2 separate regions of the Homo sapiens genome follow, and region 2 is linked to region 1. The links come from fine-mapping of genetic effects on gene expression. Tissue or cell type: whole blood. Region 1 holds a variant in brackets; the other region holds the start of a gene. All regions are shown on one strand. Distances are from middle to middle.

What was found. PIP is the estimated chance that this variant, and not a neighbour inherited with it, causes the effect.
Region 2: IPMK starts here. The variant in region 1 is fine-mapped to the expression of IPMK in whole blood (INTERVAL, PIP 0.91).

What each region holds. Positions count from the first base shown.
Region 1 is chr10:58,398,359-58,404,468 of GRCh38, reverse strand. TFAM (transcription factor A, mitochondrial) reads right to left here. Exons shown (of 7, transcript NM_003201.3): 7 at 5,249-6,110. Among named protein-coding and RNA genes, the nearest start is that of TFAM, 16 kb to the right of the region's middle. The variant C/T (reference allele first, on the strand shown) is at 4,003.
Region 2 is chr10:58,264,900-58,270,461 of GRCh38, reverse strand. IPMK (inositol polyphosphate multikinase) reads left to right here and starts at 2,568. Exons shown (of 6, transcript NM_152230.5): 1 at 2,568-3,040. The coding sequence starts at 2,851. It overlaps CISD1 (CDGSH iron sulfur domain 1), which reads right to left and starts at 1,300. Exons shown (of 3, transcript NM_018464.5): 1 at 1,158-1,300. The coding sequence starts at 1,188. RefSeq lists silencers at 873-922, 1,513-1,572, 2,278-2,787 and enhancers at 1,143-1,192, 1,038-1,594, 3,039-3,333, 3,288-3,397.

The DNA of each region.
Region 1 (6,110 bases):
TGAGGTCTCACTATGTGGCCCAGGCTGGTCTCGAACCCCTGGCTCAAGTGATCCTCTTGCCTCAGCCCCCCAGAGTGCTAGAATTACAGGCATGAGCCAGGATTACTTCCGCCCTTTAGAACTGTGAGAGAATAAATTTCTCTTGTTTGAAGTTACCAAATTTCTGGTTATTTGTTACAGCAGCCACAGGAAACCAATAATCCTGGTTACTTCCCAAGGCAAAGAAGAAGCTAAGCAATACACAAGTGCTTTGTAAACTAAACTGTTACACAAGTACAAGCTCTCTTTACTGGTCACTTTCCACAGGGATTTCTAATACCATGCACACAGCTGTTGTCATGGATCAGTCTTCATGGAAAAGACTTCAGGGGAGTTCCTGGGGCTTTCCTGTCTCATTGCACACACTTCTCCCCAATCCTTCTCTTTCCAAAAAGTTTAGTATTTCTTTCGGTAGTGGTGTGGATATTGCTAATTGTAGCAGCCCCCCAGAAAAAGAGTTAGAACTACCTTAGCCATGTCTCTTGAACCTAGGAAGCAATTACTCTTCTCTTTATCACAAGATCCTTCAGGATATAGAGCAGGCTTTCTCAACAGCAGCAAGACTGATGTTTGGGACTGGACAATTCTTTGCTATGGGGATGACTCTGCAGCATCCTTGTCCTCTACCCACTAGATGCCAGTAGTACCCTCCCCAGTCATGACAATCATGTATTTCTCAGAATAATGCCAAATGTTCTGAGGCAAACTGCTCTGCCCTCCCTCCCCACCAATCAGGTCAAGAAACCCTGATTTAGAGGATGACAGGACATGACTGGCCAAAGATCTATCTAGTGTGACTGTATTAGGGAAGCAGAAGCCTAGAAGAGCCAGAGTGACACCATTTTAAAATCAACTCCATCTTAAACTTCCCAGTCATGACCCATAGAACTAAGATGTTCACAGCTAAGAAAACAGCTTAAAGACACCTGTAAGAACAAACTCCTACAGCAGAAAGTCCAGAAGTCCCAATACTCATAACAATATATGCTTCCAAGAATTATAGTTATGCTTTGATGCACTTACACACTAAGAAGTCAAACACAGAGTTATTTATTTATTTATCTGAGATGGAGTTTGGCTCTGTCACCCAAGCTGGAGTGCAGTGGCATGATCTTGGTTCACTGCAACCTCCGCTTCCCGGGTTCAAATGATTCTCCTGCCTCAACCTCTTGAATAGCTGGGATTACAGGTGTGTGCCACCATGCCTGGCTAATTTTTGTATTTCGTAGTAGAGATGGGGTTTCGCCATGTTGGCCAGGCTGGTCTTGAACTCCTGGCCTCAAATGATCCGCCCATCTAGGCCTCCCAAAGTGCTGGGATTACAGGCGTGAGCCACCGCACCTGGCCAAGGATGGATTTCCTTAAATCAATAAAGTACTAAATTTTGTCATGCTATCTGTCTATCCACCTGTACGCACACCTTAGTCTTTACATAGAGAAGACCCCTATATAAGAAAAACTTAAAGACAGTGCATTCCTCTGCTTGTTTTCTGAGGATGCCTACTCTGGAATGGAGTAGCTTTCAATAAACTATCTCTTCTCACTGCACTTTGCAACTCATCTTGAATTCTTTCCTGTGCAAGATCCAAGCCTCTATTGGGGTCTGAATCAAGATCCCCTTTCTGGTAACAGCTCCATTCCTTGTAGATAACCCCAATCTCCATTCATACATTAAGATTTGTCCTAGATGTCAACAGAGGACGTATGTCCTAGTAGCTTGCTGATTCATCATGAAATTGGTCTTTTTGATAGTTTCATCAGTGTTTCTTAAATTACGATCAATATTCCATCTGTGGCAGGATCACTTGAGCCTCTTGTTGACCTGCTGAGAGATCCAGGAATTTCCATTTTACGTGTTTTACAGATGATTCTTAAAATTTCTTTGATAAACACTAGTTTGGATGAACTTCAGACTCCAGGTAGATGATGTTATTTATTCTACTCTCCTGGTTCTGGAAACTGATCCCAGTTCTCCCTGACAAAGTCCTCCTTCACACTTGCTGTCAGTTGAACATCTGATTCTGGAGACCCCAGCCTAACTTCTGCCTACACTGACATCTCAGGCTGTCTGTTGTCACTTACAGTACTGATGTCTCACCTTTCTGTCCCCAATAGCATTGATGTCCTTGGATACAAGCTCTGATTTCTTTGGATGCATTCAGAGCTCTTATGTTTGTCTCTATATAAATAAAGCCTTGGCTATGCCTAATGTAGTAACTCTATCAACCCTTCCAGCTTTAACATATTTTTGTATGCATGCCTGCATCCTAAATCCTAGCCTTGTTCTGCCTTTAGAGCCCTGGATACAATAACCTAGAGGGACCAGAAATCTATAGGTCTAGGTAGAGAAATGATCAAATTGAAGGAATTCAGCTCCTTCTTCAACATTCCCCATCTTGGCTGCCCAAAGAAACTTAAGCATAACCTTTTCTATCTTTCTCTACCTTATCTCTCACACTCCATCAATTATCAAGTCCTGTGGATTCAACTTCTCAAATATCTCTTGAATTAACCGAATTCTGTCCATCCTAACACGAGGCAATTGAACGTGCTGTTTCTCCTGCCTTTCCACAAATATAGAAGACTGTCAGCTGCACAGCAGCCACTCTCACTGGCAGGTTAGCCCACAATCATGCTCCAAAATTATGTAGAGAACAAATTTATAATCTGCCATAAGCAAGTTAATATGAAGATGCCACTGATGACACAGAATACTAGAAACTAATATACAAAAGCACCAACTTTAATTACAGATCCAATATATCCCTATCAAAACCCAGCTGGTTTCTTTACAGAAATTGACAAGCTGATCCTAAAATTCAGATGAATATGAAAGAGATCCAGAGTAGTTAAAACAATCTTCAAAAAAATCAAAGTTGGAGATCTCAGATTTCCTATTATAAAATTTATAACAAATTACAGTAGTCAAGACAATGTCATACTGGCATAAAGACGACATATAAATCAATGTAATAGAATTGAGACTTCAGATATAAACCCATAGATCTGTGGTCAATCGATTTTTCACCAGGGTGTCAAGACAATTCAACAGAGAAAAAATAATCTTTTCAACAAATGGTGCTAGGAAAACAGATATCCACAGGTGAAAGAATGAAGCTAGACACCTATCTCACATCATACACAAAAATTAACTCAAAATGGATAGACCTACATGCAAGAGCTAAAACTATAAAACAGAAGAAAATACTGGGGGTAAATCTTCATAATCTTCAATTTTGCAATGGTCTCTTGGATATGACACCAAAAGCACAAGCAACAAAATGAAATAGATAAACTGGACCCCATCAAAATTAAAATTATTGTGCTGCAACTGATACCATCAATAAAGTGAAAAAACAATTCCTGGAATGGGAGAAAATATTTGTAATTAATTTATTTTATAGTGGCTTTATGTCTATTATATATACAGAACTCCTGAAACTGTAATAAATGAGATAACCCATTTCAAAATGGGCAAAGAACTGGAATAGATAATTTTCCAAAGAAATACAAGTGGCCAAGAAGTACATAAAAAAATGCTCAACATCATTAGTCAGAATGTAAACACATCAAAATCACGAGATACTTCAAACCCACTAGGATGGCTATAAAAAAGACATACAATAACAAGTGTAAGATTGCCATATACATGATTCACTCATTATCAGCCACTACTGAACTGCCAGCTTAGGAAGTTAGGAAGCTCTGAGTTATAATACTACTCCCACCAATGATAGCTCCACATTATTAAATCTAAAGAACTTTTTTAAATGGCCAGTTCCACCCTCCAGATTCTGGCCCAGCTATCTGCATGCACTGACGGTTGATTCTACTCAGCCATAGTCAAGAATCACAGCACCCGGCTTGAAAAAAAAAACAAAAAACCTATTCTGCAGTAGCGTATCACTCTACTTTCCTCAGTTTTGAGTAAAATATTCACTGGGGAGAAAAAAGCAAACCTTA[C/T]GTCTACTGATACCTACCCCTCTCCTGCCCCATGCACCCTGTAATTTCTCTCCAACCACCTTAAGGGCCTTTTTTTTTTTTTTTTTTTTTTTAAAGATAGGGTCCTGCCATGTTGCCCAGGCTTGACTTGAACTCCTAGGTCAAGTGATCCTCCCATCTCAGCCTCCTGAGTAGCTGCGACTACAGGAACCAGCCACCACACACCCATGTCCACCCACCTTAGGGTTAATCTTTGTTACTAGCCCTCACTACTCAGAATTGGTGAGACCTCTCCATTTCTGCTTCACTCAGCTTACGTGGTTTGCTCACACTGACACCAACAAACACCTGTCAATCCCTATGTCCCTCCTGTCTTCCAAAAATACCTAGAAATTGCTGCTCTATTGACGGTAGTATTTCTTGTTTTCTAGTGTTGCTATTATTTGTCTATTGTACTTGGTTTTGCATTTTAGTCACCTGAATGATATCTGGAAGAAGGCGGTTTCACCATTTCAAATCTTTTTTTCACCATTTTATTGTCATTCAGGTTACTACAAATGGTAAGTAGAAGCTCTGCAAAAGTAAAAACTGAGTGGGAGGAAATCATTTTGGGAAAATATTCTGAACTATTTCAGTCCAATTAATATTTGATACTAAGCTTCTACAGCATCAGATGTTACTTATGTCAGCATAAGGAGAAAATTCCTATACTTTAAAAAAGTTTCCATTACCCCCATCTAAATATTGCCTGATAGTCACAGTATAAATTCAAGCTTGGAAAAACTACTGGCATCACTAAGTATCCCCTGACACCAAAGTTCCTGTTCATCTTAGTTACACAACTACTGATGACCTGTTCTGACTGGTGACTGAGAGGAAAAAATAAAGAAATGAGTAAGATGGTCGGTAATACTTCAACACTTCCCAGTGATTAATACATTTGGACCCGTCGTCTCATCACTTAATCCTACCCAACATTTAACGCATGAAATTTCCAGTAAAAAAAAAAACAGAACCTCATAGATGGGTCTAATCAAAACTGCCCTTTCTAAAAATATGAAGGCTAGCAGTTGGTAACCTATATAATAAAAGGTCACTGTGTCAAAACTATGTACTCCTTTCCCTCTTCCCCCATTGTATACCTGATTTGTGGGAAGGGGGAGACGAAATGGGATAAATTTTAAATTAATACAGGCAAAAAAGAATAAAGTCAGAGATTTTCTTAGACATCACATATGTAAATCAGAAACCAATATATAAATGATGCTTGGTGATGAAAAAATGTTTAGTTTATTTAAAATTCCTGTTTAGAGTCAACTTTATTTACTGGCTCCTGTAACCAGTGAAACATTCTGAAATGTATTAGATAATGGTTGTATGTTTTATATATTTCATATCGAATATAGTAAGTGATTTAATCAATTAACAAAAGTCCTTTATTTGTGAACAATGAGAGAGACTGACACTAGCTTTGTATGGTTTTACTTTGGAAAATTTTACAAATTTAAAGTAATAAATGTATTCATTTTCTTACTCTGCAGAAGTTCAATTTTAAAAAGAACATTACTGTTCTAAAATTTCAAAACATACAACATAGTCTGTGCTTGTAACATTTTCAGATTTGTCTGTGACAGCTTGATGTTATGAAGAGAAGGAGGGAGAATGGCTGTGAGTGGAGAAAAGAGCGAGAGAATATTCTTATAGTAAATGTTAGTAAAATTAAGAGAAATAATGGGTACTGTCACTCACAATATAAAAACTTCCTGCTGTTTTAGCACAACCTGGTGGTGATAAATTTTAGATACAGAAAACATCAGAAAAATCAATAAAGTGTTCTAATTACTTTAAATCTACTTATTGTACGCTATTTTTTTTCAATTCAGAAATCTAAATATACACATTCAGAGCAATTAGTAAAAACTAACACATGCCTTGTACAAAAAAAAAGACATTTCCAAAAAGGAGTTAGCCAAACGCAATAGCGTAATTACAGAATTACAGCAAGCTGAATACGTACACAGTATTATTTAAGCAAACATCAGAAAGTAAAATAAATACACAACCCTCCTTCCCCTCATCAAATTACTTTTGTAAAACCTAACATTGGTACTCCAAAGAACAAAAGTATA
Region 2 (5,562 bases), 130 kb after region 1:
AATATAGTTTTTTAAAAAACAAAAACAAAAATCACACCCTATTTTAAATGCACCAAGCTGCCTCTATTAAAAAAAGTCTCAAGATGAGTATCCTTTAATATAATTTTTGCAAATAATAATCTCTATATCATTAGTAACTTCGAAATGTCATGGAATATCACCCTTAGCCAGGTAAATTTTGTCAACAGAAGTGGAACTCTCCAATTTTTGGAAACTACCTATTAAAAAATTAGGGCTCAAGTTAGTAGGGACTTTTTATTACCTGGCACTACAGATGTTCAATATTTACTGAACGTATTTTTAATTAACCTCTAGACAGTCTCTTTGCCTTTACTCAAAACCTTGCGAAGTGGCGTTTTATAGAGGGGCAAAGATCACATATATTGTGTGTCTGGTACACAGTATTATATTAACAATTATAACATCACCAAGAATGGTTATAAAGTGAAACTCCACATTAAATGACTGCTTATAAAGTCTCTTAATTTTATTATAACGGGACTTTCTGCGAAATACTGTTTCCAAACGCTAGGTACTAGCACAGGGGAAAGAAGACTCAGAAAGCTGAAGGTTCAACGAACGCAGTTTTCAATCCTTTATCCTGGACTACTGCCACCGAGTGTCAGATGCCAGAGGAATAATAAAAAACCGGGAAAACTGAAAACCTCGGATTGCGTTTCATCCCTTAAAAAAAAATCTGCAAAACTAAGATGTGATTAGTCACGCAATGCTTCAGGATTGCAGGAAATCGACGTTGTGGCCCGACGCTGACTGAAACATGAGAAGGGCAAACAGGTTTGCTGTTGTTTTCTCCCACCTTTCCTTCTTTTCCAGGCTATGTGACTTAAGGACATGAAAGCGTCTTAGGGGTGAACAAGAAAAGCTAGCGGCGCGGTCATTAGGTGTTAGGGTTTGGCTAGCTGGGGTAAACGTGGACTCTGGTCCGGCATGGCCCCAAACCATCAATCCATCCCTGACCTCGCCCCCTTTCGCTGTCCGGCCCGGAGCCCGCAGCCGGGCCGAGCGCTTGCCCTTCTGCATCTCAAGGTTATAGGACCGGCGGGCGCGTAGGGCAGTGGTAAAACAACCCAGTCGAACTGCGGGCGCGGCAACCGCTGAGCCTCACCAGCCTCACCCGCTCCCAGGCCCCACTTCACCTCGTACGCTGGAACTGGAAGTCAGACTCATGGCGCCGTCGCTTGCAAGGCGTGTGCACTAGGATACCGAGCTCAAACGGGTTCGCGCGGCCGGCGAGAGTAAAGGTGCCAGCGGCGTACTAAAGCACCGACTCCGCGATGCTACCGCGCAGGCGCCGCGGCGGGTCGTAGGCACGTGTGTGAGCTCGACCCTGGTAGGTGCTGAGCATGCGTGGAGCTGTCCTGGCCATAAGGAAGTCTGGACTCCGGATTTTGACAGCTACGGGAGGTGGGAGGAGGAAAAGACTTAGGTAGCAACAGAGTTTGCGCAACGCCGAGGGGCGGGGCCCTGAAGCCGAGGGGCGGGGCCCTGAAGCCGAGGGGCAGGGCCCTGGGATTAGGGAATCCAGGCCAGATTTTACGTCTCTTCCAGGTGTGTGGGCTTCTGGGGGCAGAAACAGGTGTTAATAGGACACTTACTTTAATCAGATACCTAAGATTTGACCCCAGTTTTTCTTGCTCGGGGCTTGTGACGATTTACCTTCAAGGCCAGGTCCAGCTTTTATATAACATGCCAGCGGCGGACATACAGGAATCAATGACTGAGTCCCATTCCAGAACCTCGCGTAGCTACCGGTGTCCATCCCTTTCTGCTTTTGATATAATTATCTACTCAGGACCTTGGAACCTGCACTATCTTAAAGGTCGAGTGGGAGAGAAAAAACTTGCTCCTTTCTTTAAAAAACATGTTCACTTAAAAAAATTAGAAGTTTTCTCTGTCTTCTACAGTCTGAAATTCGTGTCGGTTCCAATTTTATTTTATTTTTATGTGTTTTACTTTTTGGTAAGAGCGGTTTAGAGACAGCAATCCGGGGAGGGGGGCTGAGATTAACTCGAAGGGTATTTTGAAGGCGCATCTCTAATAAGCTGCCTGCTTTTACTTCTGTTGTTTTCGTGCGGGGTGGGAGTTGGAGGGAGTTGAGTGCAGTTAGGGGTGGCCTTTAGAGCCACCCTTGGCAATGCTAGTGCCTTCCAATTCTTGCCGGACTGCTCCGCACACTTAGAAGTCCCTGGCTTCTCTGAGCTGACGCGCTGAGAAGCGTGTTGAATGAATGAGGCCACAGCAGCACGCGTGACTTCGAAATGCCCGCGGGGTGGGGGTGAGAAGAAACAGGGGTGCGCTCGCCCTATCCCTGTCGCCGTCGCCAGGTCCTGGCAGCACGGCGCGCCCGCCCCGCTGACTTGGGGGGCCGGAATCCCGTTGGACGGCCTCTGGGCATGCTCAGTAGCGGCGGCAGCGGCGGTGCGGGCGGCGGTGACGCGCGCGCGGCAGCTGAGGGGACTGGAGGACGGCGGGAGGGGGCGGGGGCGCAGGAGGTGGGNCCGCCGTCGCCGTCAGGGCCCCAGGGAGCGCGGGGCGCCGCTGCTGCTGTTCTTCGGCTCGGTTCTGTCTACCGGGCAGCGCCGGGGCCGGCGGCTGCGGCGGCAGAGGAACAGGAGCCGGGAGCCGCGTTCCGCCGAGAGTTGGGCAGAGGAGCGCCCGCGCCCCGGCGGCGTCATGGGCCCCCTCCCCGCGCTTCAGAGGGCACCAGCCGCGGGAACCCCCGGGCCTCCTCGCGCCCGAGCCTGAGCGACCCTCGGGTTCTCCGGCGCCCCCTCCCTCGCCCTATTTTTTTTCCTACTCTCGCTGCCGTTACCGCTTCTGCTCTCCGTTATGGCAACAGAGCCACCATCCCCCCTCCGGGTCGAGGCGCCGGGCCCCCCAGAAATGCGGACCTCACCGGCGATCGAGTCCACCCCTGAGGGCACCCCGCAGCCGGCGGGCGGCAGACTCCGCTTCCTCAACGGCTGCGTGCCCCTCTCGCATCAGGTGGCCGGGCACATGTACGGGAAGGACAAAGTGGGTAAGTGGGGGTGGCATAGGTCTCGCCGCTCCCCTTCCGCCTGTGCGAGCCCCCTGTCAGCGGAGGCAGCCTAGCGCTCTCGGGCCTGCCTGGACGCCCCCCTGGTGTGCACGCCAAATCCCTGGCCTCTTCCGCTGTCCCCCGAAGCCTCGCCACTCGAGCAGAAGGGGCTCGGAAAGTGGGACAATTCCTAGGGTGTGGGTCGTCAGGCTTGCAGCACGGGTGGCAGGGAGAGGCGTGTCTGGTCTCACCCACCCCCCAGGGAGGTTGGGTGTTGATTGGAGACGGCGTTGTTAGTGAAAATAAGGAACTTCATTTTTACTGGACGGGGAAGTAAATTCTCCCTTGAGCACAAGGTCTGTTTATTATAGGCGAGTAGCTATTGCAAAAGAAAAGGAATGAAATGCAGATGATGCTAATCTAGTACTTCTCTGCTGGGTGCAGCTGCATAGCTGGAGGGGAAGAAAAACACTGGGCTTTTTTAGGGGGAGGTGAGAAGGGAAGAAAGCTTGTCCGTGATTTTTCCCTGTCCCTTGAGGAGGTTTTTCTGGTGTCTCCTTGATTTCTCTGGGAGGCGTGGTTCCAGTAGTGCAGAAACTCGGATTCCTGGTGGGAAATTCACACGCATATTGTACCAGAATGATACACAAAATGTTCAGCTATTCTTGTTCATTTTATAAGGCTGTATCATGGCCACTGTAATACATTTTCTGAGTTCACAAGTTTAAAGCCTATCTCAGTTTAGGAACTCTAATTCATCTAGTTTACCCGTAGTGGTTCCCTGGGCCATGATTACTGGGGTAATCTGATGGATGAGTATGTGAGTATTGTGGATCTTTGACCCGGAAGAGCCACTAGAGACAATTTAGTTTATGCCGGTAAAACGATTCGGGTTTAGGTTGCTAATACTGACATTTTTAGACGAGGTGACTAAGGCCAACCCTGGTTAAGAATGACGTGCCTGAAGTCACGTTACAATATGTTAAGAATTGTGAAACCAAGAGTTCTTCCTTTGAGTACTGTATTTTTTCACCATGTATTGTGTTTGCTGAAACAACTCAAGGCTTTTAGAAAATGGATAAGTATTAATTTGAGTATATGCTATTTCTCAAAGCGACATTTTCCACTACTTTTATTTTTACCTACTTTGTTTGTGTGCCTTTCTCCCCACTGAATTGTGAATTCCTAGATGTTAGAGAGAGAATCTGTATTCTCTCATAGCCTTGTGCACGGACTGGGAATCAGTAACACTCAGGAAATATTGAATAGTGAAAATTGACAGTTGTTTTAGTATACCGAGGTAAAGAAACAACGTCCTCAAGTTGCTCAGCATAGACATTTCCTCCTGTGTGCCAGTGTCTTGTAATGAGAATTTGAGAGTACTCATGGGGTTTCTGTTAATAGAGGAATGCCTATTGATTTATATTAATACATTGTGATTTTACTATTCCTAATAATATTCTAGATGCCTGAAAAAGTAAATGTTTCCCTAAAGGTCCCTAGAGATTGACTTATATGCAAAGGAGAATAGATTTTAAAAATCTCAACATAAAAACAATCTAAATAATTGTCACTTAAGAGTGTAACCACTGCTTATTACAGTATGTAATAGTGATCCCATTCAGAGTGATTGCAAATAGTGGCTGAAAAGTTAATTTGTCACCCAAATTGCCTAATTAATGGAAAAGTTTAGATTCTAGAGGTAGTAGTCCTTAATTTTATTATGGCATTCAGTGTAAAATAAACTTTTTTTGCAATTTCATAAGGGTCTTTTGAGTAGGGACAGTGTTTGTGTCACCATAGTAGAATGGCTTAAACATACTGTGCTAGCAACCTAATATTTGTTGAATTTAATTCTCAGATAGTTATACAATCCTGACTGTATTGTTAAGTAAAAGGATACTTGACTGATGATATATTCCCTATTTGTAAAATGGATAAGATGGTCACTAATTCAAAGTTCAACAGTTTTATTATGTTTCTCCACTGTCATAAGTCATGTACAGTTTACATCATTTAGATCATGCTTTGGTCTGTCAATTGAAATAATTCTCAGGATAAGCTTTGTTAAGGACGTTATGTTGGTATTTGTTTTGTTTTTAAATTTGTGTTACTATCAGTAAGTAACCAGAAATGTTCCATTTAGAATTATTTTACCTATTTCCAAAAAGGAGTTGTTGGCTTTGTTAGTTTAAAAATTAAACTCATGGAACTTGATAGAACAAAGGTGCTTGAACAGAAAAATAGATCTTGTTATATATGCTAAGTAACAAGCATATATTAGTAGTTCAGACATCCGTTATATTTTGTGTTCTTCACTGAAACCATATTTCATCAAAATACATTTAAATCTTAGTTCTAAGAATACAAAGTATTTTGTTTTTTAAACTGTAAAAATTGTATAGTACACGGATCTTTTAGGAAAAAAATTCAGTTTAAGTAGTGCCCTTCCCCCTACTCATTCTCCCAGGGGCAATCACTGGTAACTACTTCCTGTCTATCCTTTCAGGCCTTTGTTTCTG